Linked DNA regions of Homo sapiens. The protein of the gene in region 1 interacts with the protein of each later gene in a biochemical or structural test. Each region holds a gene or a part of one and is shown in the gene's direction. Other genes may lie near its edges.

Evidence for each region. The genes of interacting proteins can lie anywhere in the genome.
Region 2: the proteins of RCHY1 (region 1) and ELAVL1 form a complex in vitro, tested with the Homo sapiens proteins (one study listed by BioGRID).

What each region holds. Positions count from the first base shown.
Region 1 is NC_000004.12:75,503,675-75,508,732, reverse strand, and holds part of RCHY1 (RING finger and CHY zinc finger domain-containing protein 1), read left to right. Parts: intron 1-5,058. UniProt on the Homo sapiens protein: E3 ubiquitin-protein ligase that mediates ubiquitination of target proteins, including p53/TP53, TP73, HDAC1 and CDKN1B. Mediates ubiquitination and degradation of p53/TP53; preferentially acts on tetrameric p53/TP53.
Region 2 is NC_000019.10:7,960,642-7,964,920, reverse strand, and holds part of ELAVL1 (ELAV-like protein 1), read left to right. Parts: intron 1-1,113; coding exon 1,114-1,438; 3' UTR 1,439-4,279. UniProt on the Homo sapiens protein: RNA-binding protein that binds to the 3'-UTR region of mRNAs and increases their stability.

The sequences.
Region 1 (5,058 bases):
ACATCTGATAAGATACATTCATTTTAAGTGTCCAATTAAGTGAGTTTTGATAAATACCGGTATCTCTTTTACTATCAGCACAATCAAGCTATAGAACATATCCATTCTAAAAAGTTTATTCATAATTTGTTAATAATTTAATTTACCCATCAATTATTGTATAACTATTTAGAATTTTACCTTTGGATTATAAAATATGTTTTATATAAAGTGTTTTATGGGCAACTGAGGTAGAGAATTGGGATAAATTTTTCCTTTGTAAAAATTAGTATTTAAAAAATTATCAAGAAATACAGGTGATTTTATAAAAATTGGAAAAAACAGAAAAGTAGAAATAATAAAAATAAAATAACCAGAGCCTAACCACAGACAAGCTACTGTTGACATGTCGGTGTATAAGGAATTATTTTCTTTCTTAAAAATCTCGAGTATTTTAGATGTATATTAAAGCATGTATGTAAAGTGTGTCTAAAGTACAGTACAGTGAATAAGCCACCGAGTTTAGGAAAGGAATGTTACCAATACTGTCAAAGCCCAAGGTGTTCCGTGTTCAGTCCTTTCTTCTTGTCCCTGCTGGAGGTAATCACTGTCTTGAATATTTTAAATCACTTTCTTGCTTTTTTTTTGTTTTTTTTGTTTTTTTAAAATATAGTTTGTTTTTAAGGAAGGATAACCAACCTACCAAAAGATAACAGAAATTATAAGCAAATGATTTTATGAATTTTAACAAATGAACATGCCTTTGTAACCACTACCCAGATCAAGAAACACAACATTCATAGCACCTTCATAGCTTCCTGTGTGCCCCCTCCAAATTAATACACTTCCCCAAAGGTAACCAGTATGCTGACTTTTGGAAGTTTTTAATGAATGGAATCATATAGTATATGCTCTTTTGTGTTTTGTTTTGTATGTTTTAAGGCCATGTCTTTCAGCGGTCACATACTTAAAATTATTACATTTTCCTGTATGATTGACCCATTTATTATTATATAATGTGTCTTTTTATCTTTAGTAATGTTTCCTGCCCTAGGCTCTACTGTATCTATATCAGCTTTCTTTCGATGAGTTTTTGCATGTATATCCTTTTCCATTTAGACATTTTTGTATACTTACATTTAAGTCATGTGTCTTGTAAAACAGCATATAGTTGAATTTTAATTTTTCAATCCAGTTTGATAAAACTGTCTTTTAATTGGAGTATATAGTTCGTTTTTTATTAAGGTAGTTAGGATATGTTCGTGTTTCAATCTACAGTTTTGGTAGTTTCTATTGCCTTAGTATTTGTCTTTTTTCCTCTCCTTTCTTGTCTTCTTTGGATTAATCTGTTGCTTTCCTATTTGCTTTTATTCTCTATAGGCTTGTTAGTTATACATTTTTCAATTATTTTCTTAGTGGTTATCCTAGAAATTATAACATACATCATTGGCTTACTAGAATAATATGTTTATCACTTCTTGGACAATATTAGGACCTTAAACACTAAGAGTCTTTATATGCTATTGTTGTTATATATTTACCGTTTCTATTGCCCTTCTTTCCTGTAGGTCTCCAGCATTATCTTTGGAGTTACTTTTCTTCTGCTTAAAGAATTGTCTTTAGTGTTTCTTTTAGTGAGGTCCTGCTGATGATACATTCTCTCAGTTTTTTTTGTCTCTGAAAAATGTCTTTTTTTTGCCTCCATTTTTGAATATTTTTGCTGGGTGTAGAATTCTAAGTTTACAGGTATTGGTTCCCCTGACCTCCCAACACTTTAAAGATATTCTGATTCCATGGTTTCTGTTTAAAAATATCATTTCTCAGGATTATTATTGCTTCTTTGAAGTTAAAATGTCTTTTATCCTCCTCTCGCTGTTTTTTAAGTCATTGGTTGTTAGTATTTTTTCCGTGTGTCCAGGTTTGATTGAGTGTAATATTTATCTGGCTTGGGGTTTGTAGCATTTGTTGAATCTGTGGCTTGATGTCTTCTGTCAATTTTGAAATATTTTTGGCCAGTTTCTCTTCAGATAATGTTTCTGTACCGTTTTCCCACCTCTTCTGAGACTCCATCCCATAGATCTTTTTACTACATCCCATGTCTCTTTTTTTTTTTCCTGTATTTCTCCTACTTTGATTTTCTTTATGCTTAAATTGGATACTTTCCACAGATTAACTTCCAGGTCTCTCTTCTGCTGCATTGAATCTGCTTTTAAGCCTACCAAGTTATCTATTTATTTAAGTTATAAAATTTATATTTTATCTTCATTCTTGTTATTTTCTAGTTGTCAGGTGAAATTCTTTACCTTTTTTTTCTTTGAATGTATTGATCACAGATGATTTAAAGGACTGTGCCTAATAACTCCAATATCTTGATTATCTATGGGTAAATTTTGTTTTCTGTTTTTTCTCCCTTGGTGTTTGGTTCTGCCTTTTGACATGCTTGATTTTTTTTTTTAGTTGATTGTTGGACATAATATGTAAAAATTTATTAAGCTCTCGATGCTATTTTTTTTTCAGAGAGAATTTAATTTTCTTTCAGAAGGCAGTTAATGTAGGGATGGATAACCTTAATCCAATTTAGCATTGATATGATTAGAGACTAATTTTTGTTTTTTTTTTTTTTGTATGTCCTGTTCTATTTTTTTTTTTTCCTCCCTTTATTCTTATGCTCCTAGGACATAGTCCCTTGGAGATCTTGACTTAAAGCTAGGGTTGTTTACCAGGCCCATCTCTTTCGTGGTGGAATCTGGACTCCAAATTTTGGCCCCCTAGCATAGGAGTACTTTCAGAGGGTTTACTTAGTTTCTTAGGCTCTTACCTGTTGCTCTCTGTTTAGTTTCTTAGCTTGTCACAGCACAGTTTAGGGTCTAAAAATCTCCCAAGGAAGAAAGAAGTAGAGACTATTGACTTTGCCTCAGTATATTTGCTTTCTCTCTGAGATCTTTGCCCTTCAAGCACTCAGTTGCTCTTTACTACTTTTAAACAGCTTGTTTGTTTTCTTTAAATTGAGTTTTTCTAGTTCTCAGTAGGAGTTTTAGTCCTATAGAAGCTATTTCGTCATTGTGGAAGTAGAAGTTACAATATATGTTTCATTTTGCTTATTTTAAAAATCATATATATGGCCTTTTTTTCTTTTTGTTTTTTTACTGAGCTCTGTTTCTAAGATTCATCCTATTTGATTAACTCTAATTCATTTTCACTTTTGTAGTGTTATTTTGTATATCATATCTACACATAGCTTCTAATTACCACACACAACCAAGAAAATCATACCCTCTTTTATTGGTTGATTTATTGACATTCAAGTTATTGTTACTGCAAAGTACACATCTCATGCTACATGGTAAATATTAAACTTCATGAGATCATGGTATTTTCATATTTTAAATTTCTATACCTGGGAGTGCCTTATATCAGGGTCCCCAGTGCTTGGGGTGCGGATTCTGGTGCATGGCCTGTTAGGAACTGAGCTGCGCCCAGTGCAGGGTGAGTGGTGGGTGATCGACCATTACTGTCTGAGCTCTGCCTCCTGTCACATCAGTAGTAGCATTAGATTCTCATAGGAGCACAAACCCTATTGTGAACTGTGCATTCAAGGGATCTAGGTTGTGTACTCCTTATGAGAATCTAATACCTGATTATCTGAGGTGGAACAGTTTCATCCCGAAACCATCCCCCAACCTCGGTCCATGGAAAAATTGTCTTCCATGAAACCAGTCCCTGGTGCCAGAAAGGTTGGTGACCGCTGCCGTATATACAGTAGGTGCACAGTAATGTGTAGGCAGTATATCTTTGGCAGTGTTTTCAGTATTATGATAACCCTGAATATACTAGAAAAATTAGTCATCGCCATTTACCATTTAAGTATAATGGATTCTTTTTACTTTAAAAAATATTTTAAAGCCCTTTTGTGAATAATGTGCAGACGAAAGAATAAAGGATAGTGAAAATTAACTTCACTGGAAATTTTACTAAGAATTTGAACACTGCAAACCCAAATTTTAATTCCATGTATTCCAAGTTGAAGATAATGTGTGCTCAAATATGTCAGTGTCCTCTGTAACTGCTTTTGACCCTTGAACAATGTTGGGGGTTAAGGGCACCAAGTGCCAGCTCAGTTGAAAATCTGAGTATAACTTTCAACTCCCCACAACTTAACTACTAATAGCCTGCTACTGACTGGAAGTCTTATCAATAACACAAATAGCCAATTAATACATATTTTGTATGTTATATGTATTATATACTATATTCTTAGGATAAACTAGAGAAAAATATTAGGACAATCATAAGGAGAAAATATGTTAACTGTTCATTAAGTGGAAATGGATCATCATAAAGGTCTTCATCCTTCTTCATGTTGAGTAGGCTGAAAAGAGGGAGGAAGAAGAGAGATTGGCTTTGCTATCTCAGGGGTGGCAGAGGTAGAAGAAAATCTGCTTATAAGTAGACCTGTGTACTTCAAATTTGTGTTGTTCAAGGGGTCAACTGTATTTACTTGTCAGTTGTCATGCTTGAATCTGGCACATGTGCATCGTGTAAATAACTGATACTAGATTTTAGATACATTTCTAATAGGTTCTAGCTTGTAATTACTTCTGGTTCTTCTTGTATTTGTATCATCAAAATGCAATACTAATTCCAGATCTCAAATACACCACTGATAAGTCTTGGCTTATCATTACTTCTGTACACATATTACCAAATTCAAATACATTTGAGAACTTTGAGAGTCGTAATTTGGTTGAAGAAAAGACGACCTTTCTTCATAATTGCATGCTCTGTAATTGCAAAACATTTTAATGAATTTTTTTCATTTTTACATCATCTGTTTCCTTTTAAGTACTTTAACATATGTACCTGCCTTCAACGTTTGTCCACTTATGAACCATATTAAGTAAATTTTGGTGTACAAACGTCATAAAAGATGGAAGAATATTATCACACATTCTTTAAGGATGTCCAGGTTTTTGTCATGAAATAATGTAATTTGAAGTCCTTCCTAATAAATGACTAAGTGAGGATACCATATTTTCTTTTTTTTTTTAATTAATTTTTTTTTGAGATGGAGTCCCACTC
Region 2 (4,279 bases), on another chromosome or scaffold:
AATGCTTCTCTGCATGCATCACGCAGCTTCACAGATGCCGGCTTCACAAATGTATGCTACTCAGATATTCCCAAACTGACCCTCAGACCTTTACTTTTTTAATGTGAGAAAGTTCCAGAGGGAAACATAGCTTTAGGAACTGTTTTGTCATATACCTTAATCCTTATTACAGCATCTGTACATTTTCAGAAGGCTTTATTTTATTTTAGTTTAGTTTAGTTTTTGTTTTCTGAGGTTTTTGTTTTTTTCCTAGAGATGGGGTCTCTCTGTGTTGCCCAGGCTGGTCTCAAACTCCTGGCCTCAAGTGATCCTCCCACCTTGGCCTCTCAAAGTCCTGGGATTCCGTGCTTGAGCCACCATGCCTGGCCCAGAAAGGCTTATTTTTTATGTAAATAAAAGTATCACTGTGGAAAGAGCCCCACGTGTGTGGTCAAGTTTGGTGAGCCTGCCGTTGCTGGTGTCCCAGGGCCCTTCCCTGTCCCTTGAGTTCTCAGTCCTCAGTGGTTTGGCCCCTGACCCTCAGGGGATGTTGAGCTCTAGCCACAGAGGGTTGGTTGCCTGGTGCTTGGGAAGGAATTCTTGTGCCCTACAAGTGGCCCTGGCAAAGGCGTGCTCTAACCAGAGACCACTGGGCTGTCAACGCTTGGGGGCGGGTCATGATAAGGGGAAGGTGCAAAATTTGGAAAAAGGAGTTCAGCCCCTGCACGTACCCCACAGTACGAGGAGAGTTTCCTCCAGGGAGAACTGAGGCTGTCAGAGGCCTGCAGAGCATTTCTACCTTCAACGGAGGACCAGGAGAAGCGCCCATCATCTAAAATGTGGGGAACCGCAGGAACCCCTAAACAGAAACCCCGACATACACAGTGGGAGGAGTGGAGGGCACCAACCAGCCCCTCAGAGTCAGCTCCCTACAGAACAGGGTCCCGCCCCTCCACTACTGTATTTAATTCCTCCCAGGGTTTTGACCCATGCAGGTGTCTCAACCGTGAGCACCTCGTGGCTGCGCAGAGCGGGATGGGGCCCAGCGGCCATGGTCAGCATGCGTCCAGGCCTTGCCCCATCCCCAGGCCGCCTGCGCTGACCGTGGCCTGACGCTTGCTCTCTGTCTGCCAGGTTCTCCCCCATGGGCGTCGATCACATGAGCGGGCTCTCTGGCGTCAACGTGCCAGGAAACGCCTCCTCCGGCTGGTGCATTTTCATCTACAACCTGGGGCAGGATGCCGACGAGGGGATCCTCTGGCAGATGTTTGGGCCGTTTGGTGCCGTCACCAATGTGAAAGTGATCCGCGACTTCAACACCAACAAGTGCAAAGGGTTTGGCTTTGTGACCATGACAAACTATGAAGAAGCCGCGATGGCCATAGCCAGCCTGAACGGCTACCGCCTGGGGGACAAAATCTTACAGGTTTCCTTCAAAACCAACAAGTCCCACAAATAACTCGCTCATGCTTTTTTTTGTACGGAATAGATAATTAAGAGTGAAGGAGTTGAAACTTTTCTTGTTAGTGTACAACTCATTTTGCGCCAATTTTCACAAGTGTTTGTCTTTGTCTGAATGAGAAGTGAGAAGGTTTTTATACTCTGGGATGCAACCGACATGTTCAAATGTTTGAAATCCCACAATGTTAGACCAATCTTAAGTTTCGTAAGTTATTTCCTTTAAGATATATATTAAACAGAAATCTAAGTAGAACTGCATTGACTAACCAGTCCCTCTGGATGGTGGTGAACCTGAAGCATGCTTTAACCTCTAAGACTGTCTAACACGCGTTTCATTCAATGTCTCCACAGACTGGGTAGCAAAAAAATCACCTTTTAGTTTTAGTTTTTAATCTAAAGATGTTAGACAGATGCTGAGTGTGCGTTTTCTCAACCGCTTCAACATTGTAAGCGATGTATGCTTTGGTTGACAGGAAGTTCCTTTTCCAGGCAGGTCCCGTTGCCACCTCCTGCTCACTCAGTCCCGGGCTCTGCCGAGTGGTCCTGGGAATGGCGGCGGGCCCGTCCAGCGTGGGCCACCACTGGGGCCGGGGGCCACGGGCTGCATGCTGGGCGGGCCCTCCAGAGAAGGACACAAACGTGTTTCGTAAGCCCAGGCACCAATGGGAATGGACCAAAGAGTTTCAGGGAAACTCCAGTATATTCCAGAGTCAGATCTAAGCTCCAGGCACGCCTGAAGATGTGTTGCTACTCTGACATCCCGAGTTTCTGTCCACACATTGCATGCACAGCGCCCCACACATTGGATACTGTTGTTCACGATAATTTCTCCCGTTTTCCAGAGCATTTAACATAGCTTGGAGGCGTAAAATGGCTCTGTATTTTAATAACACAGAAACATTTGAGCATTGTATTTCTCGCATCCCTTCTCGTGAGCGCTTAGACCTTTTTCTATTTTAGTCGGATTTTGTTTTGGAATTTTGCTTTTGTATGAACACTCAGCAGAAAAGTACTTACTTCTTGCCAGTTATCTATTAACCAAAACCTTTGATTTGTAGTTTTAAAGATTAACCCTCAAAGTTCTCTTCATAACTGCCTTGACATTTTGGGTTGTTCTGTTCTGTTAATTTTCTTTTGCTTTTTTGTGTTTTTTGTTTGTTTTTACTTTTGCATTTAAGACCATTAAATTTGATTTTGTTTTGCTCGAATTTTGTTTTGTTTTTTATTTTACCTTTTCTTTCTTTTTGGCTAGGGAAGGTGCAGGTGGCCCAGCATTCAGGGAGGAGTCGTAAGATCTTAAGAAACCAATCCTTGCCTCAAGCAAAAGCATTTCTGAATCTGTGACGCAAGAATGTGCAGTTACAGGCTGGTGGCTTTTAAACCAGGAGCCCGGAGGAAGGGTGAAAGAGAAAGCCTGTGAAATAGGCAGGGCCAGATCACCCAAAACTCCTCAGGACTGGGATCTGGCGTTTATAAATAACTAGTTTACAGAGAGAATCACAAACAGGATAACTTAGTACCAGCAGTTTTTAACCTTGACGTGAGACTAAAACGTGACCGTAGGCTGTTTTTTAGTTATTGCTCTCATGAGATGATGGCTGTATTTATCTGTTTATTTATACCTATTTATGTATTTATTTATTGAAGTGTGAAATTGAGCAATAGGCAGGCACCACCGTCCCCAGAGCAGGTCAGCGTCTCGAGAGGCCCCTGGACAATTGAGGATGCCCATCCCCTCCCCTTTCCCTGATCTTTTACTGAGGGGCTGTGTGCGCGATCCTTGCAAATTGATGATGTTGCCATCCGTACCCAGGCTGTGTCTCATAAAAGTCGGCCTGGTGCCAGAGAGGACCTCCTTTCTCCCACAGAATCCCAGATCCTCAGGAAAAGCCAAAACCGAGGCCCATTGCCCGGATTCGACACAAAAGAGGGTCCCTGCTCTGTTGCCCGAGAGCAGTCTGCATCCTGGGACCAGAATGCTTTCCTGGAAAAAGAAGCCTTTCAGGTTTCCCTGGGCCAGCATCTTCTGATGGAAGGTGGGAGCCAACACCCTTCTGATGGAAGGTGGGAGCCAACACCCTTCTGATGGAAGGTGGGAGCCAACACCCTTCTGATGGAAGGTGGGAGCCAACACCCTTCTGATGGAAGGTGGGAGCCAACACCCTTCTGATGGAAGGCGGGATTCCCGCTTCTGAAACTCCCCCTGGAGTCTCACTCCCACACATGCCCATAGCTAGCATTCAACAGAGAACTCTGTCTTAAGCTTCAACTGTGAAAATGATGACGGGCTTGTAGCACCTCAGCTTCTTTCCTCGCCCCCTTTTATCTGAATCCTATCAATTATTCTGATGCTGGGACAGGTGAGAAGAAACTGTGAAGTATATGAGCCTTTGAAAGTTCCCTGAAGTTTCTCAGTTCAGGAACATTCTCATTGTATGTGGTCTCCGCTGTTTGAACAGCCTTCTAGCTAAAAAATTCCAAAGCCTTTATTTGGGAGTCTTAGCTTGCAAGCTTGTGGAAGGATTTAGCTTAACAACTGTCACTCCTGAAAAGCAATCTCTGTTCCATCAAGGTTCTAGTTGCTGGCCCTGTGTCCTCAAAGTTCATTACATCTTATCAAGGCCTGTTTGCAAAGGGGAGATCCCTTTTCTTAAAAAAGGCTCAACCCAAAAGAAACCATTTCTTAAAAAATTTTACATAGATCAGTTGTATTTCTATTTAGCAAAAATGAGTGCTCTGCTTTTATTTGGGAATTTCGATGAAAAAGCGTTCAGAGTAGATAATGTTCATTTATCAAAAATCTGGTTTGGGAAATACCAAAGAGGCTTTGATTGAATTC